Linked DNA regions of Homo sapiens: all the other regions are linked to region 1. Evidence: fine-mapped expression QTL. A gene starts in region 1. Each other region holds a variant in brackets. All regions are shown on one strand. Distances are between the middles of the regions.

Evidence for each region. PIP is the estimated chance that this variant, and not a neighbour inherited with it, causes the effect.
Region 2: its variant is fine-mapped to the expression of FBXO34 in whole blood (INTERVAL, PIP above 0.99).
Region 3: its variant is fine-mapped to the expression of FBXO34 in whole blood (INTERVAL, PIP 0.95).

The regions. Positions count from the first base shown.
Region 1 is chr14:55,269,675-55,272,525 of GRCh38, forward strand. It overlaps FBXO34 (F-box protein 34), which reads left to right and starts at 1,747. Exons shown (of 2, transcript NM_017943.4): 1 at 1,747-1,863. FBXO34-AS1 (FBXO34 antisense RNA 1) reads right to left here and starts at 2,404. Exons shown (of 2, transcript NR_184222.1): 1 at 2,208-2,404. RefSeq lists a silencer at 1,799-2,298.
Region 2 is chr14:55,201,840-55,204,690 of GRCh38, forward strand. The region is part of intron 1 of LOC107984708 (a long non-coding RNA gene); the gene reads left to right. Among named protein-coding and RNA genes, the nearest start is that of DLGAP5, 12 kb to the left of the region's middle. The variant C/CA (reference allele first, on the strand shown) is at 1,169.
Region 3 is chr14:55,369,548-55,372,047 of GRCh38, forward strand. ATG14 (autophagy related 14) reads right to left here. Exons shown (of 10, transcript NM_014924.5): 10 at 1-378. The coding sequence ends at 72. It also overlaps a transcript of FBXO34 not described here. Among named protein-coding and RNA genes, the nearest start is that of ATG14, 41 kb to the right of the region's middle. The variant C/T (reference allele first, on the strand shown) is at 1,358.

The sequences.
Region 1 (2,851 bases):
CGATTCTCCTGCTTCAGCCTCCCAAGTTGCTGGGACTACAGGCGTGCCCTGCCACACCGGGCTAATTTTTGTATTTTTAGTAGAGATAGGGTTTCACCATGTTGGCAAGGCTGGTCTTGATCTCCTGACCTCAAATGATCTGCATGCCTTGGCCTCCCAAAGTGCTTGGATTACAGGCGTGAGCCACCATGCCCAGAAGGAATCAAGAGGTTTTAAGAAGGACAGTGTTTGAGATGAATCTGAAAGGATAAACTGAAGTTTTACAATTTTGAGCTAACTATGACATAAAGAAGCTTCAAATGATCATGATATATTGAGCTAATATTGCTCACATATTAAATCAGACATACAGTTTGATGCCACGGTGTACCATATAACACCCTTCCTTAATTTTTTTTTTCCTTTTTGAGATGTGAGCCACCGTGCCTGGACTTCCCCTCTCCAATTTTTATTAAAAATATGTATATAGATAAAGGTCTAGATGGAGATACTGAGTGGTTATTTCTTGGTGATGAGATTATGGGAAATATTTTTATTTTGTTTTTACGTTTTAATATTTAAGATTTTACACATATATTTTACAACAGTAGTTTTATAATTGGACAAAATTATTTTTGTTAAGGACTGGCTAAAATCAAAGTTGCTGGTTTAAGTGTAACTTGGTACAACCTTTTAAAAATCATTTGGCAGTTTGTATTAGTAACTGTGAAAGTGTTGATAGTCTTTTTCACCTAGTAATTTCACTTTTGGGTATCTTTAAAAATCTACATTCATGAAGATGTTCTATGATTTCTTTATAATGGCAAAAAGTGAATGAAGGAAACAAGTTATGTCCAAAAATAGAGAATTACTGCAGTAAATTTTATGTCCACTTAATGTAATTTTATGCAGCTGTTAAACTGGTTATGAAGCTTATGTGGAAATATGAGGAATGCTTATAAAAGTGAAAAGAGGATGCAAAATCGCGTACAACTACTATTACAGTGTAGTAAAATATATGTGATGGGGCAAAAGGTCTAGAAGAAAATACATTGTCCTCATGTTTTTCAATGTGGTTAATATTATTTTCACAATGAAAACAATAATAAGCTTAAAGATTGGGAATCAAAAGTTCCTCACTGGCCCTCTGATTTGAATATAAAGTGTTAAAAATTTATATCCATCATTAACCAGCCCTTAAGCTTCTACAGACTTTAACAGTTTCGTGTCAGCCTCAACGTTTATCTACTTTCTGACCGGTATCCCTGCCATGATTTTCATAGGAAAGAGAGTCAGAAGGGACCTTTCCAATTTTGTCATTTTACAAATTGAAACTCTGAACCCCAGCCTTCCAAGCTAGCAGCAGAACCAGTATGAGGATCCAGGTCTACTAGGTTATCTAATAGTATCTGAGACCATTTACAGCTTCAGGTCCACCCACGAATATTCATAAACTTGACATGTCTGCTGATTGAACCCTGGCGTCACTACCCTTCTTGGCTGGCCTGGGAGGTTTGATTCCTTTCCCTACAGTCGTGCTCAAACTTTCATTCTCTACCACTTGGGGGCCGCAGACGCGTCATCCAGGTCTCCCTTTTCACTTCCCCCTTCCCGCCCCCAGTGTCCGGCAGGGGGCGCCGTGAAACTCTGGATCCGTGGCCCCTCCCCCGGCCAACCGTCGATTGGGCCGGCGCGTGACGTCACTCCGTTTTAGCCAAACAAATGGGTTTCGGGGCGAGCGTTGGGCGCCGCCGCGCCGCGCTGGGTGCTCGGTCCGACTCAGCGGTGGGGAGTGAGCCAGGCCTCCCGCCACCGCTGCTGCCGCCACCACTGCGTCGGGCTGGTGCAGCCCCGGGCCAGGCCGCGGCCGGGGCAGGAGCGCAGGTGGGTCCGGGCCGAGGTGGGGCGTGGCGCGAGGGCCGCGCGACTGGGGTCCGGCGGCGGCCACCGTGGCCGCTCCCCGCCCCCTACCGCCGCCTGCCTGCGCTCCCGGGGCGCGGGGCGGGTGGGGGTGGGGGCGGGGGCGCCGCCCGCGGGTCCGGGGTAGGGACCCGGCCGCCTGCGCCTCCTCCGGTGCGGCTCTTTCCGCGCGCACGGCCCGGGCGCTGAGCGTCCCCGCGGGCCACGGAGGGTCGGGCGGGTAGGGAGCGGGGTCCTGGGTCCCCGCTGAAGCCGAGGAGATTCACGGATAGGCCGTGAGCTTGCACCGGACCGGCGCTCCCACTTACGGGACCCAGGGCGGTGAGGAAGTCAGCCTCTGGACTGGGGTCGCCTCGCCCCTGTCGCGCCCTCCCGGGCTCGGCCACTCTGCCCTTCCCTGCCCCAGCGCAGGTGAGCTGGCGCTTGTCCTTAACCTTCTTCAACGACGAGGCGGGACGGAGGCTCGGACGCCTCCCCAGCCTCTGGGCTGGCGCAAGTCGACTGCGGTTCGTCCTCAGTCCACGATGAAGTCATAGGGCTGTGGGTCCGTGTGTCTGTGACGTCAGAAGATGGGTCCTGGGATGTCACTGCAGGCCCGGGCGGGGACCTGGGCTCACGGAAGGGCCGGGGGGACCCGCAGGGTAGAAAAAGGAAGTTGTCTTCCACGAACGCTTGGAATCGCAGTGGATTTGAATCGAAAGTTGTTCGGTATCAGCATTTTGCAATTTTAATGTAATAGTTGTCAATTTCTTTAACTTCTTGTCCAGCAAGCGTTGCGAGTACAGCTCAGTATAAGACATTTGATTTAGAAAAACTTAAGTCAGGGTAGGAGGTTTTTTGGAGGGTGTAATGTAAAAAGCCTTTTAGGAAGCTAAATTCGTAGTTTGATAGTTTGCAATCAGAATTACTGAAAAAAAAGAGAACCACTTCTAGTGTTGATAAATCAGTTTGC
Region 2 (2,851 bases), 68 kb before region 1:
CTGTACTTCTTCCACTAAGCTAGCTTTGGAACAAAGGTCACTTTCTTTATAACAGGCCTCACTCTTAATTGGACTCAGCAAGTGGTGAGTGACTGAGTCTGTCTTTTGGTTACAAAAGGAGCAAAAGGAATCATTCATTCATTCATTCAAGAAATACTGATAACATAAAGGTTGAGAGTGGAGTTTTAGTTTGTCCACCCTGAGCTATAGTCGTGGAGCTGCTCAAATCTTGTTCTCAAACTTCATCTGTAAGGTGGAGATCATATCAACATCTACTTTATCAGATTGTTGTGAAAATTAGTGTGGAGAGGGTGTGGGCTTGGGCCCCACAGACTGGTTCAAATACCAATCTTGCCACGTTTTAATCTATGTGGCCTTGGGCAGGTGACTTAATCTTTCCTGAGCTTTGGTTTCCTCATCTGGAAAATAAAGATTTTCAACAACAACAATAACAACAATGTCCTTGAATTATTACCAGTAGAAACTCTACGTTGTTTTGTGAGTTAACAGGAGAGTAGAAAGAGAAAAAAAAAGAAGAAAGAAAGAAAGAAAAAGAAAAGAAACTATATGCATTTTAATTAAAATGTTGAAAAATAAAGAGCAAGAAGTTTTGCTGTCAACAATTAGTAAGAATGGCCGGGCACAGTGGTGCATCCCTGTAATCCTAGCACTTTGGGAGGCCAAGGCAGGAGGATCACTTGAGCTCAGGGGTTCAAGACCAGCCCAGGCAACATGGCAAAATGCCATCTCTCTACACACACACACACACACACACACACACACAAACAAACACACACACACAATTAGTATGAATGAAAAATTTTAATGTAATTGATCACAACTATAAACTGGTGGAGTCTATGAAGAAAACAAAACATGTTTCCCATCAGGTGTGGTGGCTCATGCCTATAATCCCGGCACTTTGGGAGCTCAAGGCAGCAGACTGCTTGAGTCAGGAGTTCAAGACCAGTCTGGGCAACATGGCAAAACCTCGTCTCTACCAAAAAAAGTGCAAAAAACTTAGTCAGGCATGTCGGTGTGCATCTATAGTCCCAGCCACTCAGGAGGCTGAAGTGGGAGGATGGCTTGAGCCCAGGAGGTTGAGGGTGGAGAGAGCCATGATTGCACCACTGCACTCCAGCCTGGGTGATAAAGCGAGATCCTGTCT[C/CA]AAAAAAAAAAAAAAAAAAAGATGTTTCCTAATCAGTACCACTTGCTTAAAACATGGATAAGATTTCACTTAATTCACAACATTGTGAGCCATTGCTTTGAATCAGCCTTTTTCCCCACTACATGTTCCTTTTGAGATTTTAACAAAGTAGAACTCATCCAAAGTTTTCTTTATTCATCCATTTATTGCTGCTTTCTTCCACCAATCATCAAAGGCTGTTAATAATTCTTCCCTTAGGAACCATCTGAGAAAGCATAGCAGAAATGCAATAAATATGCTGATTGATATTTTTATTATGTAGATGTTTTACATAGTGACAAATATTTTTATGATGCTGTAAACTCACATAATATGATTAAAAACACTTCTTAATTGAAAATCTCTAAAATTTAAGCTCACACCTCCTAAAACACCTCTGAAAATATGTAAGCACAAAGTTGTTAAATGACAATTATTTAAAAGTTATGTGCACGTGCTGACAAAGCCTGGAACTTACCGTGTGATGTGACACAACTGTATGAACCTTTCTTGTATTTTAATTTCTACTTTGTGTTCTAATAATGGTTTTTGTACAATAAATAATAGCTTAAAAATGACTGCAAATAGCTGAATCTAATTATAAGTCCTCAATGAACGAATTAAATGTTACATTTTCCAGTTATTAAAAAAATATTTTGTTAACATCATTTTCTTTAACATCTGTCCAATTTGTTGTTTTAAACATATTATATATTACAAATCAATCTCTTTTTGTTAGCTATTTTACATTTTCCTATTATAAATAATCCTCTAATTAACATACTTTAAAATGTTGATTTTTGTTGAGGCTGCTTTTTTATATCACTAAAGTATTTCCTCATTTTTAAAGTCTTTATAATGAGGGAGGGGAGTACTGTAATTTTTTAAAAAACTATTTTTAGGCTGGGCATGGTGGGTTACACCTATAATCCCGCAGTTTGGGAGGCCAAGGCGGGAGGATTGCTTGAGCCTCGGAGTTCGAGGCCAGCCTGGCAACATGGCAAAATCCTCTCTCTACAAAAAATACAAAACTTAGCCAGACATGGTGGCATGCACCTGTAGTCCCAGCTACTCAGGAGGCTGAGGTGGGAGGATCACTTGAGTCAGAAAGTTGAGGCTGCAGTGAGCTGTGATCAAGCCACTGCATTCCAGCCTAGGTGATGGGAGTGAGACCCTGTCTCAAAAAACAAACAAACAAAAAATAACAACAAAAAACCAAACAATTTTTAAAAACGGAAAGAAGTAAAAACACCTGGCAAACAATGCAAAATGTATACGTTAGAAAGTGAATCCCCACTTCCCTCCTCACCACTACCATCTCCACCTAACTGTGATCCCTTTCAGGGTGTCCAAGTTTCTGATCATTTTTCAAGAGAGAACCCCAGATGGGGAATTACTGAGTAATAAGGAATCAGATAATTTAGAAATTATAAAAACATTAAAGAAAATCATTGACAACAAAATAGAAAAATTCAAGCTATATATAAATTTATATAAAATAAGAAAAATGGCCAGACGTGGTGGCTCATGCCTGTAATCCCAGCATTTGAGAGGCTGAGGTGGGAGGATCACTTGAGGTCAGGAGTTTGAGACCATCCTGGCCAACATGGTGAAAACCCGTCTCTACAAAAAACACAAAAATTAGGTGTGTTGGCACACGCCTGT
Region 3 (2,500 bases), 100 kb after region 1:
AAATGTTTACTAGAGTGTAGTGGGAGAAGAACTTTCTTGATGCAGATTTGGTATGTTTTGGTCCATGCTCGTTAACGGTGTCCAGTGTAAGCTTTAAACCAGGAGGTCACCGAGGCTGCTGCAGAGGAGATCATCCCACCTGCACTGCTGCTCGCGATGGGTGGGGACGCCTGGGTGCTCTGACTCTGGGAGACTTCCACAGACTGGGAAGGGATATCACAAAACCGGGGACTAGGCAAGTTCTCCCAGTCTGTGCCCAGGTCGGTTTCTTCATCGCTGACGCGCTCATCTCCGCTCTCATCTGATTCTCCAGCAACTCCGGGATCCACAAATTCCATGGACTCCTCAAGGTCTGCTCGTACTTCAAAGGGCCCTGACCTGTGTGCAGACAATGAGGGTCTCTTTAGGATAACAACCATTCTCAACACCAGAAAATATGCCATCTTCCTGAAGGCCCTCACCTGAGGGGATGAGGGACGCCGCACACCCCATTCATTCCCCAAGTCTATGCAGCACTCCGTGTTGACATATGATTGCGTTTTCCTTTACCCAAATAATCTCCACCCAAGTTATAAATAAAATCATGATACCACACTTTCCCACAAGTCTGCCTACTTCATTGGTGATGACCGTGCATAGGAAAAAAACCTATTCACTGAGATGGCCCATGCTGGTCCTAAGTCTGACTTCCTGTTGTAAAGAACTGCAGTGTCTACGAAGTAAATACACGGCACTCCAATGAGACAATTCTAACAAAAAGCCACTTGATGTATACTCTGGATATTATTTAGTGTAATAAGTAATAAATGGTATACAAAGAAAACTCAGTGGGTTCCTGTACATATTTAAAAATATCACCACAATTTTCTAGGACACATTTCTAGCACAGAATGAGGCACAACTGTTTAGAATATATTCAGAGGCAATGTTGTATATTTCTGCACTGTATTTCAGGAGAAAACAATTTTTATTTCTCAAAGGTCCCTAATAACACCCTCACTGCCAAGTCCAATAACCCTTTCTTAGGCCTCATCCTCTTTGCTGGCACCTCAGCACAGGGAACCGAGTCAGCAAACCTCAGAAGCCTTTCTGCATTTCTTTTTTTTTTTATTTAGACAGAGTCTCGTTCTGTTGCCCAGGCTGGAGTGCAGTGGCGCCATCTTGGCTCCTGCAACCTCCACCGCCCAGGTGCAAGCGATTCTCCTGCCTCAACCTCCTGAGTAGCTGGGATTACAGGCACCTGCCACCATGCCCGGCTAATTTTTGTATTTTTAGTAGAGACGGGGTTTCACCACGTTGGCCAGGCTGGTCTTGAACTCCTGACCTCAAGTGATCCACCCACCCCTGCCTCTCAAAA[C/T]GCTGAGATTACAGTTGTGAGCCACCACGCCCGGCCGCCTTTCTGCTTCTTTTTCCCCTCCCTTTCAAATGCCCCTCAGCTCCTGCTCCAGGGCAGCCAGGCTGCATGTCCTCCCTGTAGGCAGCCACCCCCACCCACTGCCTTCCAGGGAACTGCCCTGCAACCAGCTACAGGGTGGGACCAAGGTGCCGCTCTCTCCCTGCTGCTGCCCCCAAGATAAGCACACGATGCCTTGGTTCATTTAAGGGTTTCACTGATAACGACTTTGGGGAAAATAGGAGAGGTCGAAATAAATAGCAGGCAGAAATGAGAGCCTAGAATCGTATAGCTTGCCATTTCAGCCTATGGTCCCAAATTCTCCACAGCCTTCACAATGATGAATGGCTAGCACTGGCTTCCAACGCACCTCACCAGGTCTGCACCGTTGACTCACTTTTTACAGAAGCAAGCAGCCCTCATTCCTCCCAGACACCTGTGCTTCCCAGATGGATTAAGCAATAATAATAGCTAACATTTATGCTCCAGGGACTGTTTTTAGGGCTTTATTAAATTGGAAGATACGCCATGGGGTTTCCCACTTGGTCTCCAGTGAGCAATTTACATTTTCCAAGAGCCCCTCAGGCCGGGCGCGGTGGCTCACACCTGTAATCCCAGCACTTTGGGAGGCTGCGGCGGGCAGATCACGAGGTCAGGAGATCGAGACCATTGGCTAACACAGTGAAACCCTGTCTCTACTAAAAATACAAAAAATTAGCTGGGTGTGATGGCGGGCACCTGTAGTCCCGGCTACTCAGGAGGCTGAGGCAGGAGAACGGTGTGAACCCCAGAGGCGGAGCTTGCAGTGAGCCGAGATGGCGCCAGTGCACTCTAGCCTGGGCGACAGAGCGAGACTCTGTCTCAAAAAACAAACAAAAAAACAAAGAGCCCCTCAGACTAGGGGTGCTCTCAAGTTTACTAGGCCCCACCCTGCCCAGAAGTCAGTATTTTGCAAGGGTGAAAGGAGTAGGACTTTCTACTGCCCCTTGAATTTCTCTGCCAGCAAACTAATGGCCACTGCAGTTTTTAGCTCTGAGCACCCTCTTCTCAAGTTTCTCCTTGCACTTCATTTCTTTTCTCCCCTTTTTCTTTTCCTTGGCAAACAGT